Homo sapiens: one gene and its partners. The protein of the gene in region 1 interacts with the protein of each later gene in a pairwise test. Each region holds a gene or a part of one and is shown on either strand. Other genes may lie near its edges.

The links. Proteins that work in one complex are often made in the same cells at the same time.
Region 2: the proteins of LMAN2 (region 1) and SUPT5H interact in a two-hybrid assay, tested with the Homo sapiens proteins (one large-scale study listed by BioGRID and IntAct).
Region 3: the proteins of LMAN2 (region 1) and ATP13A2 interact in a two-hybrid assay, tested with the Homo sapiens proteins (one study listed by BioGRID and IntAct).

The regions. Positions count from the first base shown.
Region 1 is NC_000005.10:177,341,669-177,345,168, forward strand, and holds part of LMAN2 (vesicular integral-membrane protein VIP36 precursor), read right to left. Parts: intron 1-3,500. UniProt on the Homo sapiens protein: Plays a role as an intracellular lectin in the early secretory pathway. Interacts with N-acetyl-D-galactosamine and high-mannose type glycans and may also bind to O-linked glycans.
Region 2 is NC_000019.10:39,452,082-39,455,581, forward strand, and holds part of SUPT5H (transcription elongation factor SPT5), read left to right. Parts: intron 1-1,274; coding exon 1,275-1,440; intron 1,441-3,500. UniProt on the Homo sapiens protein: Component of the DRB sensitivity-inducing factor complex (DSIF complex), which regulates mRNA processing and transcription elongation by RNA polymerase II.
Region 3 is NC_000001.11:16,991,429-16,994,928, reverse strand, and holds part of ATP13A2 (polyamine-transporting ATPase 13A2), read left to right. Parts: intron 1-1,093; coding exon 1,094-1,300; intron 1,301-2,347; coding exon 2,348-2,443; intron 2,444-2,526; coding exon 2,527-2,686; intron 2,687-2,799; coding exon 2,800-2,920; intron 2,921-3,070; coding exon 3,071-3,195; intron 3,196-3,500. UniProt on the Homo sapiens protein: ATPase which acts as a lysosomal polyamine exporter with high affinity for spermine. Also stimulates cellular uptake of polyamines and protects against polyamine toxicity.

The DNA of each region.
Region 1 (3,500 bases):
ATCCAGATGTAAAGTCAGATTCCAGAAGGAACGAAGAACAACAAATACAGTGACTATAAGGGTGAAAATCTAAATATCTGACTGCACAAAACAATGGGTTGTGTGATTTAAAACAGAAATAATTAAAACAAATGACAACAATAAATGGAGTTAAAGTGTGTTAGGATCCTTGCACTGTCCAGGAAGAAGGTAAAGTACACATTATCATTAGTCTTTGGTACAACATGAATGCCTGCTTTAAATTCTAGGGTGACCACTTAAAACTGAGAAAAGAGCATATAACTTTCAAGCTAATAGAAGAGGAAAAATAGGATAATAAAAATTAACCTAAAAGAAGACTAGAGAGAAAAATGAACAGAGAATAGGCAATTTGAATATATAGAGTAAGATAGCAGATTAAACCCAAATGTATCATATTTCATTAAATGTAAATGGACTAAATGCTAAATAAAAAAACAAAACCCAAGGGCACCTAGGATCTCTGTATTATTTCCTGCAACGGCATGTGAATTTATAATTATGTCAAAATAAAAAGTTTAATTTGAAAAGTAAAGAGGCCAGGTGCAGTAGCTCATACCTGTAGTCCCAGCACCTTGGGAGGCCATCATGGGAGGTTTGCTTGAGCCAAGGAGTTCAAGACCAGCCTGGGCAACACAGCAAGACTCCATCTCTATAAAAAAAAATAATAATAAGTATATAAAGATCAGAGATCTAAACTTAAGAGCTCAAACCTGGCCGGTTGCAGTGGCTCACACCTGTAATCTGAAACACTTTGGGAGGCTGAGGCAGGTGGATCACCAGAGCGCAGAAGTTCAAGACTAGCCCAGGCAACACGGTGAAAACCTGTCTCTACAAAAAAATACAAAAATTAGCTGGGCCTGACTGCGCATGCCTGTAGTCCCAGCTACTTGTGGGGCTGAGGCAGGAGGATCACTTGAGCTGGAGAGGTCAAGGCTGCAGTGAGCCGTGTTCACGCCACTGCACTCCGGCCTAGGCAATAAAATGAGACCCTGCCTCAAAAAACAATAAACAAACCAACAAAAAAACCCTTTAAAACTCTTAGAAGAAAATCTAGGGAAAAAATGTTCATGACACTGGATTTAGTAAAGATTTCTTGGATATAGCACCAAAAGCACAGACAAAAAAAAAAAAAAGATAAATTGTACTTCACTAAAACTAAAATTTTTGTACATCAAAGAGCATGATCAAGAGGGTGAAAAGACAACCCACAGAATAGGAGAAAATATTTGCAAATCACATATCTGATAAGGGATTAATATCTAGAATATATTAAAAAACCCTAGGCCGGGCGCGGTGGCTCATGCCTGTAGTCCCAGCACTTTGGGAGGCCAAGGCGGGCAGATCACGAGGTCAAGAGATGGAGACCGTCCTGGCTAACACGGTGAAACCCTGTCTCTACTAAAAATATTAAAAAAATTAACTGGGCATGGTGGCAGGCACCTGTAGTCCCAGCTATTCGGGAGGCTGAGGCAGGAAAATCACTTGAACCCGGGAGGCAGAGGTTCCAGCGAGCCGAGATCGCGCCACTGCACTCCAGCCTGGCGACAGGGCGAGACTTCATCTCAATAAATAAATAAATAATAACAAATGTTGGCAAGGATGTGGAGAAATTGGAATCCTTGTGCATTGCTGGTGGGAATATAAAATGGTGCAGTTGCTACAGAAAACCGTTTGGTAGTCCTCAAAAAAGTAAAAATAGAATGACCGTATGATCCAGAGATTCTACTTCCTGGGTATATACCCAAAAGAACTGAAAGTAGGATTCAAACAGATACTTGTATACCAATGTTCACTGCAGCACTATTCACAATGGCAACAGATGGAAACAACCCAAGTGTCCATTACGAATAGATGAATACACGGAATGTGGTCTAGACACACACACACACACACACACACACACACGAATATTACTCAGCAACAAAAAGGAATGCAGTACTGACATATACTACAGTATGGAGGAACGTTCAACATATGCTCAGTAAAATAAGTCAAAGAAGACAAATATTGTATGCCTCCATTTATCATTTATGTGAGATGCCTAGAATAGTCAAATTTACAGAGATGAGGTAGAATGGTGGTTACCAGGGACTGTGGGGATGGGAGTGATTGTTAAATGGGTAGAGAGTTTCAGTTGGGATGAGCAAAGAGTTCTGGAGACAGACGGTGGTGATGGCTACACAGCAATGTGAATGCACTTAATGCCACTGACCTGTACACTTAAAAATGGTTAAAATGGGCCAGGCGCAGTAGCTCACGCCTGTAATCCCAGCACTTTGGGAGGCCAAGGCAGGAGGATTGCTTGAGGCCAGGAGTTCGAGACCAGCCCGGGGCAGCATAGTGAGACCCCAGCTCTACAAAAAATTAAAAAAAAAAAAATTAGCCAGGCACAATAGCACATGCCTTGTAATCCCAGCTACTCAGGACACTAAGCAGGAGGATCACTGGACTCCAGGAGTTCGAGGCTGCAATGAGCTAGGATTGCACCACTGCACTCCAGCCTCCGTGACAAAGTGAGACCCCCCCCATCTCTAAAAAAAAAAAAATTTTTTTTTAATTTTAAAAACTGGTTAAAATGGTACGCTTTGTTACTTTTTTTTTTTTTTTTTTTTTTGAGACAGAGTCTTGCTCTGTCGCCAGGGTGGAGTGCAGTGGCGTGATCTCAGCTCACTGCAACCTCTGCCTCCCTGGTTCAATTCTCCTGCCTCAGCCTCCTGAGTAGCTGGGATTACAGGAACACGCCACCATGACCAGCTAATTAGTTGTATTTTTAGTAGAGACGGGGTTTCACCATGTTGGCCAGGATGGTCTTGATCTCCTGACCTCGTGATCCACCTACCTCGGTCTCCCAAAGTGCTGGGATTATAGGCGTGAGCCACCGCGCCCAGCCTGTGTTACATACATTTTATCACAATAGAAATATTTGAGAAATTTGACCAGATGCAGTGGCTCACACCTGTAATCCCAGCACTTTGGGAGGCCGAGGCAGGCAGATCACCTGAGGTCAGGAGCTCAAGACCAAGCCTGGCCAACATGGTGAAACCTCGTCCTACTAAAAATACAAAAATTAGCCGGGTGCGGTGGCGGGCGCCTGTAGTCCCAGCTACTAGGGAGGCTGAGGCAGGAAAATCACTTGAACCCGGGAGGCAGAGGTTGTGGTGAGCCGAGATCGCGCCACTGCACTCCAGCCTGGGCAACAGAGTGAGACCCTGTCTCAAAAAAAGAAAAGAAAAGAAAAGAAGAGAAAGAAGAGAAGAGAAAAGAAAAGGAAGAAAGATTTGAGAAATTTTCTTGCATGTGCAGATGTGTACGTACAACAGTGGAAACATTTTTTTACATAGCCATGACATCTTTTAAATGCCATTGTCAGGCTGGGCGCAGTGGCTCATGCCTGTAATCCCAGCACTCTGGGAGGGCAAGGTGGGTGGACTGCTTGAGCCCAGAGTTCACGACCAGCCTAGTCAACATGGTGAAACCCT
Region 2 (3,500 bases), on another chromosome or scaffold:
GGGTTGGAGAAATGATGTTTACAGGCAGAAAGGATGAGGATTTGGTGCCTGTCGGTAATTGGAGGAGGCCATCACAGGTCTAGGGGAAGACACTGAGGTCAGTTTGGGACACAGTGAGTATGAAAGGGCTCAGAGGCCATCTAGGGGAGGCATCCAGGATGCTGCTGGTGCATGGAGGTCTTGAGTTCTGGAAAAAAGTGGGACTCTATAGACAGATGAGGACACGTGTCATCTCTAGAGACAGGAACTGAGGTCATGGAAAGTAAAATGGACAGGGAGAGAGGGCATGGAGGGAGAACAAAGTGGCCCTGGACTGAGCCCTGGTAATTGATGTCAGATTTGAAGGGGTTAACAGTAAGAGGAGCTTGAAGAGGAGCTGGTGGAGTTTTGAGAAAAACCAGGAGAGCATGATACGGCAGAAGCCAAGAGAGGAGCATTTCTCCAGGGAGGGCATGGTTGGGGTGCCAGATGCTGCTGGGATGGTAGGGAATACAGAATGGCCACAGAATTAGCAACAGGGGTGGCCAGTGATCTTCGTGAGCAGTGTGGACTAGAAACAGAGATGGGAGTCACTGTCACAGAGATGTCCACCACCGCCAAGGGAGAGGACGAGATGGCCTTGGGGAGTTGTAGAATGGGAAGAGATGGGCCAGGTGCTGTGGCTCACACCTGTAATCCCAGCATTTTCGGAGGCAGAGGCGGATGGATCACCTGAGGTCAAGAGTTCGAGACCAGCCTGGCCAACATGGTGAAGCCACGTGTCTACTAAAAAAATACAAAAATTAGCCAGGTGTGGTGGCGCACACCTGTAATCTCAGCTACTCAGGAGGCTGAGGCAAGAGAATTGCTTGAACCCAGGAGGTGGAGGTTGCAGTGAGCCAAGATTCTGCCATGGCACTCTAGCCTGGGAGACAGAGTGGGACTCTGTCTCAAAAAAAAAAAAAAAAAGAGAGAGAAAGAAATGAGGCCCAAGGACCAAGCTTCATCAAGCTATTATAGTTAAAGACTCGGTGGAAAGTGAGCAAGAGGTCTAGTGCAGGGAGAAGCCCGGGTCAACTCCCAGGGTTGCTTGGGTGGCTGGGGAGATGGCAGTGCTGTCGCTGAGATAGGATGGTAACCAGAGAGGCCAGGCTAGAGTGAAAGGGATATATGCAGAGCAAAGTGGGCTATGATTGGCCAGGCCAATCTGAGGTCAGATTTAGGGTGAGGAACTTGGTTTTTGGATTTTTGGGGTAGCAGAATTCTGGTGCTACAACCCTGCCTGACCCCTGTAGGTAGACGAAGAGCGGCGGAGTGCAGCGGGCAGTGAGAAAGAAGAAGAGCCTGAGGACGAAGAGGAGGAGGAAGAGGAGGAGGAATACGATGAGGAAGAGGAGGAAGAAGATGATGACCGACCCCCCAAGAAACCCCGCCATGGAGGCTTCATTCTGGACGAGGCTGGTATGTCATAGTGCTTGGCCAGTGCCGAGCAGAGGCTGAGCTTCTACTTTTAGTTCCATTTCTTTTTCTTTTTTTGAGGCGGAGTCTCGCTCTGTCGCCCAGGCTGGAGTGCAGTAGCATGAACTTGGCTCACTGCAAGTTCATGCCATTCTCCTGCCTCAGCCTCCTGAATAGCTGGGACTACAGGCGCCCGCCACCACGCCCGGCTAATTTTTTCTATTTTTTAGTGGAGACGGGGTTTCACCTTGTTAGCCAGGGTGGTCTCAATCTCCTGACCTCGTGATCTGCCCGCCTTGGCCTCCCAAAATGCTGGGATTACAGGCGTGAAGGACCAAAGTTCTTAACTTTTCTCGTGCTACGGCCCCTTCTGTAGTCTGGTGAAACCCTGTTCCCTTCTCAGAATCATCTTCTGAAATGCATAAAACAAAATACATAGGATTCCAAAGAGGACAATTTATTGAAGTACAGTTATCAGAATATTTAAAAAGAACATTTTGGTGCATATGTTTCTTTGTTAACATATTTAGGTAATAAGACTTTGTAGGTAGTCTGAGAATCTAATTTTCAAGTAGCAGTGAGTGTAAATGCTGCCTTGAGATACCTATAGCTGTAATGTGCTGTGAAAGAGCCAGTGACACAGCTAACATTGTGTGGTTTGTTGCCATTGTATGTAATTGATGTAAATGCTAAATTTCAATTCCAGGTTACTGAAAATAGGAGCTGTAGTTTTTTCATCGAACACAGACCACCCCAGATGAAAAATCTCTGTTCTACGTGTTAAATCCCTGTTAGTCAAATTGCTAGGTAAAGGTGGTGCATTTTGTTGTTGTCGTTGTTTTTTTTTTTTTTTTTGAGACGGAGTCTCGCTCAGGCTGGAGTGCAGTGGTGCGATGGCTCACTGCAACCTCTCCCTCCTGGGTTCAACTGTTTCTCCTGCCTCAGCCTCCTGAGTAGCTGGGACTACGGGCACGTGCCACCATGCCTGGCTAATTTTTTATATTTTTAGTAGAGACAGGGTTTCACTGTGTTAGGATGGTCTCGAACTCCTGACCTTGTGATCCGCCCGCCCTGGCCTCCCAAAGTGCTGAGATTACGGGCGTGAGCCACCATGCCTGGCCGCACTTTTTTTAAAAAAAGATTTTTTATATTTACGGCCAAATATCAGTTCCTAAAAAGATAAGACTAGTTCATACTTCCATGATGATAATGAATGTGCATGTTTTCCCTTACCTATGGGAAGAGGGGTTACTTAGAACACATCCTGCCTCTGTTTTCCTGGGACTGTTTTACCTGAGAAGAAAAGTAGTTTATTGTCAAAGGGACAGGAGGTGCTCTGGATGTTCTTGGAGAGCAAGAGAATGGATACCATGCTGGGTAAAAGCTGTGGGTTCCCAGGGACACCCATATGTTGGTGGTGGAAGTGTTGGTGGGCACTGCCTGTGTGGAAGGCTGTGTGGCAGTGCCTGTTAGCATTTAACATGCAGGAACCCTTTGACCAAGCAGTTCCTCTTTAGAATTTACTTTATGGTTAAACTTGCATGAGTGCATGAAGACCTGAGAACAAAGATGCTTGTTGTAGTCCTGTTCGCAGTTGCAAAAGTTTGGTGACCTAAATGTTTATTGATGATTAGGGCCTGGTTAAACAAATTATGGGCCATATAGTATATGAGGCATGTGCTGCTGTGGGAGAGCTCTGAGTTAGTAGTAGTTTTGAGAAAAAGAAAGGTACAGAACGGTGTGTTAAAAAAATTACGTGGGGGCTGGGCGTGGTGGCTCATGCTTGTAATCCCAGCACTTTAGGAGGCTGAGGCGGGTGGATCATCTGAGGTTAGGAGTTCGAGACCAGCCTGGCCAAGATGGCGAAACCCTGTCTCTACTAAAAATACAAAAATTAGCTGGGCGTGGTGGCGGGCGCCTGTAATCCCAGCTACTTGGGAGGCTGAGGCAGGAGAATTGCTTGAACCCGGGAGGTGGAGGTTGCAGTGAGCCGAGATTGCTGCACTCTAGCTTGGGTGACAGAGCAAGACTCGGTCTAAACAAAAAAAATTACATGGGGGGAA
Region 3 (3,500 bases), on another chromosome or scaffold:
GCACTTCGGGAGGCCGAGGCGGGTGGATCATGAGGTCAGGAGTTCAAGACCAGCCTGGCCAATATGGTGAAACCCCGTCTCTACTGAAAATATAAAAAATTAGCCAGGCACGGTGACATATGCCTGTTGTCCCAGTTACTCGGGAGGCTGGGGCAGGAGAATCGCTTGAACCCGGGAGGCAGAGGTTGCAGTGAGCTGAGATCACACCACTGCACTCCAGCCTGGGCAACAGAGTGAGACTCCGTCTCAAAAAAAAATAAATAAACCGGGGAGGGGGATGACCAGATTCTTATAGTTCCCAGGCTAGCCAAGGAGCCAGACGCGTACTTGGGCAGTTAGAGTCTAGGATGGGGAACGCAGGCACTGACTCATGCGCTCATTCAACAGATATATTGAGGCTGGGCGTGGTGGCTCATGCCTGTAATCCCAGCACTCTGGGAGGCCAAGGCGGGTGGATTGCCTGAGGTCGGGAGTTCGAGACCAGCCTGACCAACATGGTGAAACCCCGTCTCTACTAAAAATACAAAAATTAGGTGGGCGAGGTAGCGCGTGCCTATAATCCTAGCTGCTCGGGAGGCTGAGGCAGGAGAATCACTTGAACCCGGGAGGTGGAGGTTGCAGTGAACTGAGATTGCGCCACTGCACTCCAGCGCGGGCGACAGAGCAAGACTCCATCTCAAAAAATAAAAATAAATAAAAATAAAAATAAATAAATAAATAAATAAATAAATGAGAGAGAGAGAGCGAGCCAACCGTGGGCCGGGTCCTTAACCACAATGCACAAGTGTGGGGAAGTGAAGAGGCCATGGGTAGGAGCCCAGAGCAAACCACCTGCCCTAACTTGGGAGTTAAGGAGGAAGACACCCTGGAAGAGATGATGCTAGACAGAGAGACGGTGGGGGCTGGGGAGGGGGACCCCAGCAGAGGGAATCACATGTGCCAAGGACAGCAGTCAAGAAAGGTCATCTTTTGGCTCCAGCTCGAGTTCCTGGGGTTCCCATAGGGTCCGCCGGGCCTGGGGTTTGGAGGCCCAGCTCAGCAGGGTACCCCCATCCCAGGACTCATCGCTGCCCCACCCACCTGTCTCCCACAGACGGGCACCCTCACTGAGGACGGCTTAGACGTGATGGGGGTGGTGCCCCTGAAGGGGCAGGCATTCCTGCCCCTGGTCCCAGAGCCTCGCCGCCTGCCTGTGGGGCCCCTGCTCCGAGCACTGGCCACCTGCCATGCCCTCAGCCGGCTCCAGGACACCCCCGTGGGCGACCCCATGGACTTGAAGATGGTGGAGTCTACTGGCTGGGTGAGGAGGCCAAGCAGGTCAGCCCCCTGCCTCTGGGCAGTGGGGCCTAACGAATCCCACCCTGTCTTCCCTCTCCATCTTTCAGGGTGGTCTCTTATTATGCCCACCATTAATAATAATAGGCCAGGCGCAGTGGCTCACACCTGTAACGTGGCTCCCGGCGCTTTGGGAGGCCAAGACGGGAGGATCACTTGAGCCCGGGACCCCAGCCTGACCTACATGGCAAAACCCCATCTCTGCCAAAAATACAAAAATTAGCCGGGCGTGGTGGTGCATGCCTGTAGTCCCAGGAGGCTGAGGTGGGAGGATTAATTGAGCCCGGGAGGGCGAGGCTACAGGGAGCTGTGATCACGCTACTGCACTCCAGCCTGGGTAACAGAACGAGACCCTGTCTCAAAAAATAATAATGATAGGCCAGGTGCAGTGACTCATGCCTGTAATTCCAGCACTTTGGGAGGCTGAGGTGGGCAGATCACCTGAGGTCGGAAGTTTGAAAGCAGCCTGGCCAACATAGTGAAACCCCGTCTGTAATAAAAATACAAAAATTAGCCAAGTGCGGTGGAACATGCCTGTAGTCCCAGCTACTTGGGAGGCTGAGGGCAGGAGAATCATTTGAATCCGGGAGGCAGAGGTTGCAGTAAGCCGAGATCACACCACTGCACTCCAGCCTAGGTCACAGAGTAAGACTCTGTCTTAAAATAAAAGTAACATAATAATAATGGCAAGGCCTCAGGCTGAGTGCCTACTATGCGCCAGCGCACGGCCACAGAGGCCTGGTCTCATTTCCTCTTCCCCAAGCCCTAGCAAGCAAGCTCAAATGTTGCTTCACGGATGCTGAGGCTGGGAGATTTGGAGTGACGTATTCCAGGTCACCCAACAGCTTGTAAGTAGCAAAGCTAGAGTTTGAATTTGAGTCCACCGGGCTCCAAAGCCCACATTCTTAACCCACCATTCAGTCTCCCATGAAGGAAGTCTTCCCTGAGTCTAGCTCAAATCTCTCTGTGAGCCAAAGCCCCCAGACACCAAACTTCCCTGCCTGCCTGCCAGGTCCTGGAGGAAGAGCCGGCTGCAGACTCAGCATTTGGGACCCAGGTCTTGGCAGTGATGAGACCCCCACTTTGGGAGCCCCAGCTGCAGGCAATGGTGAGCTGAGGGGGGCCTGTTGGGTGCAGGGCAGAGGGGTGGGCTCCCCAGCCAGCACCTCAGCTGCCTCTCCAACCCTGCAGGAGGAGCCCCCGGTGCCAGTCAGCGTCCTCCACCGCTTCCCCTTCTCTTCGGCTCTGCAGCGCATGAGTGTGGTGGTGGCGTGGCCAGGGGCCACTCAGCCCGAGGCCTACGTCAAAGGCTCCCCGGAGCTGGTGGCAGGGCTCTGCAACCCCGAGACAGGTGCAGGGGGAAGCCCCTGAGTCCCCCTGGTTGGGCATTGGCACAGAATGGGGTGGGTACCCAGCCTCTGTCCCTGCCATCCCCTCCTTGTGACACCTGCCTCTCCCTGGCAGTGCCCACCGACTTCGCCCAGATGCTGCAGAGCTATACAGCTGCTGGCTACCGTGTCGTGGCCCTGGCCAGCAAGCCACTGCCCACTGTGCCCAGCCTGGAGGCAGCCCAGCAACTGACGAGGTGGGCCTGTCTCCTGTCCCACCCACTCTGAGGACTAGGCAGAGGGAGGCTCTCACGCAGGCAGAGCCCAAGGAAGATGCCCTGCCTGGTGGCTGGGAGAGGGGCCCTGGCCACTGCATGACCTCTGATCCAGGTCTGCCCACCCTCCAGGGACACTGTGGAAGGAGACCTGAGCCTCCTGGGGCTGCTGGTCATGAGGAACCTACTGAAGCCGCAGACAACGCCAGTTATCCAGGCTCTGCGAAGGACCCGCATCCGCGCCGTCATGGTGACAGGTACAATGGCATGTAGGGGCCCGGGCTAGCAGGGCAGAATCCGCCCCTTCCTGGCAGAGAAGAGGGGCACCAGGGATTCCTTTTTGGGGCATCTTTTTGGGCCCTTGCTTCAGGCCAGGTCCTTTTTAAACATTTCGTGAATCTTCACAATATCCCCCCCGCAAGTGGTAATTGTCACCCCTGTTTGACAGATGAGGAAACTGAGACTCAGAGGAGTGGAGTGACTTCCAAGGAACCCATGTGCGCTGTCAGACAGCCTGGGTTCCAGGTGGCACCTCTGAGAAATGGGGATAATGATGTCAGCC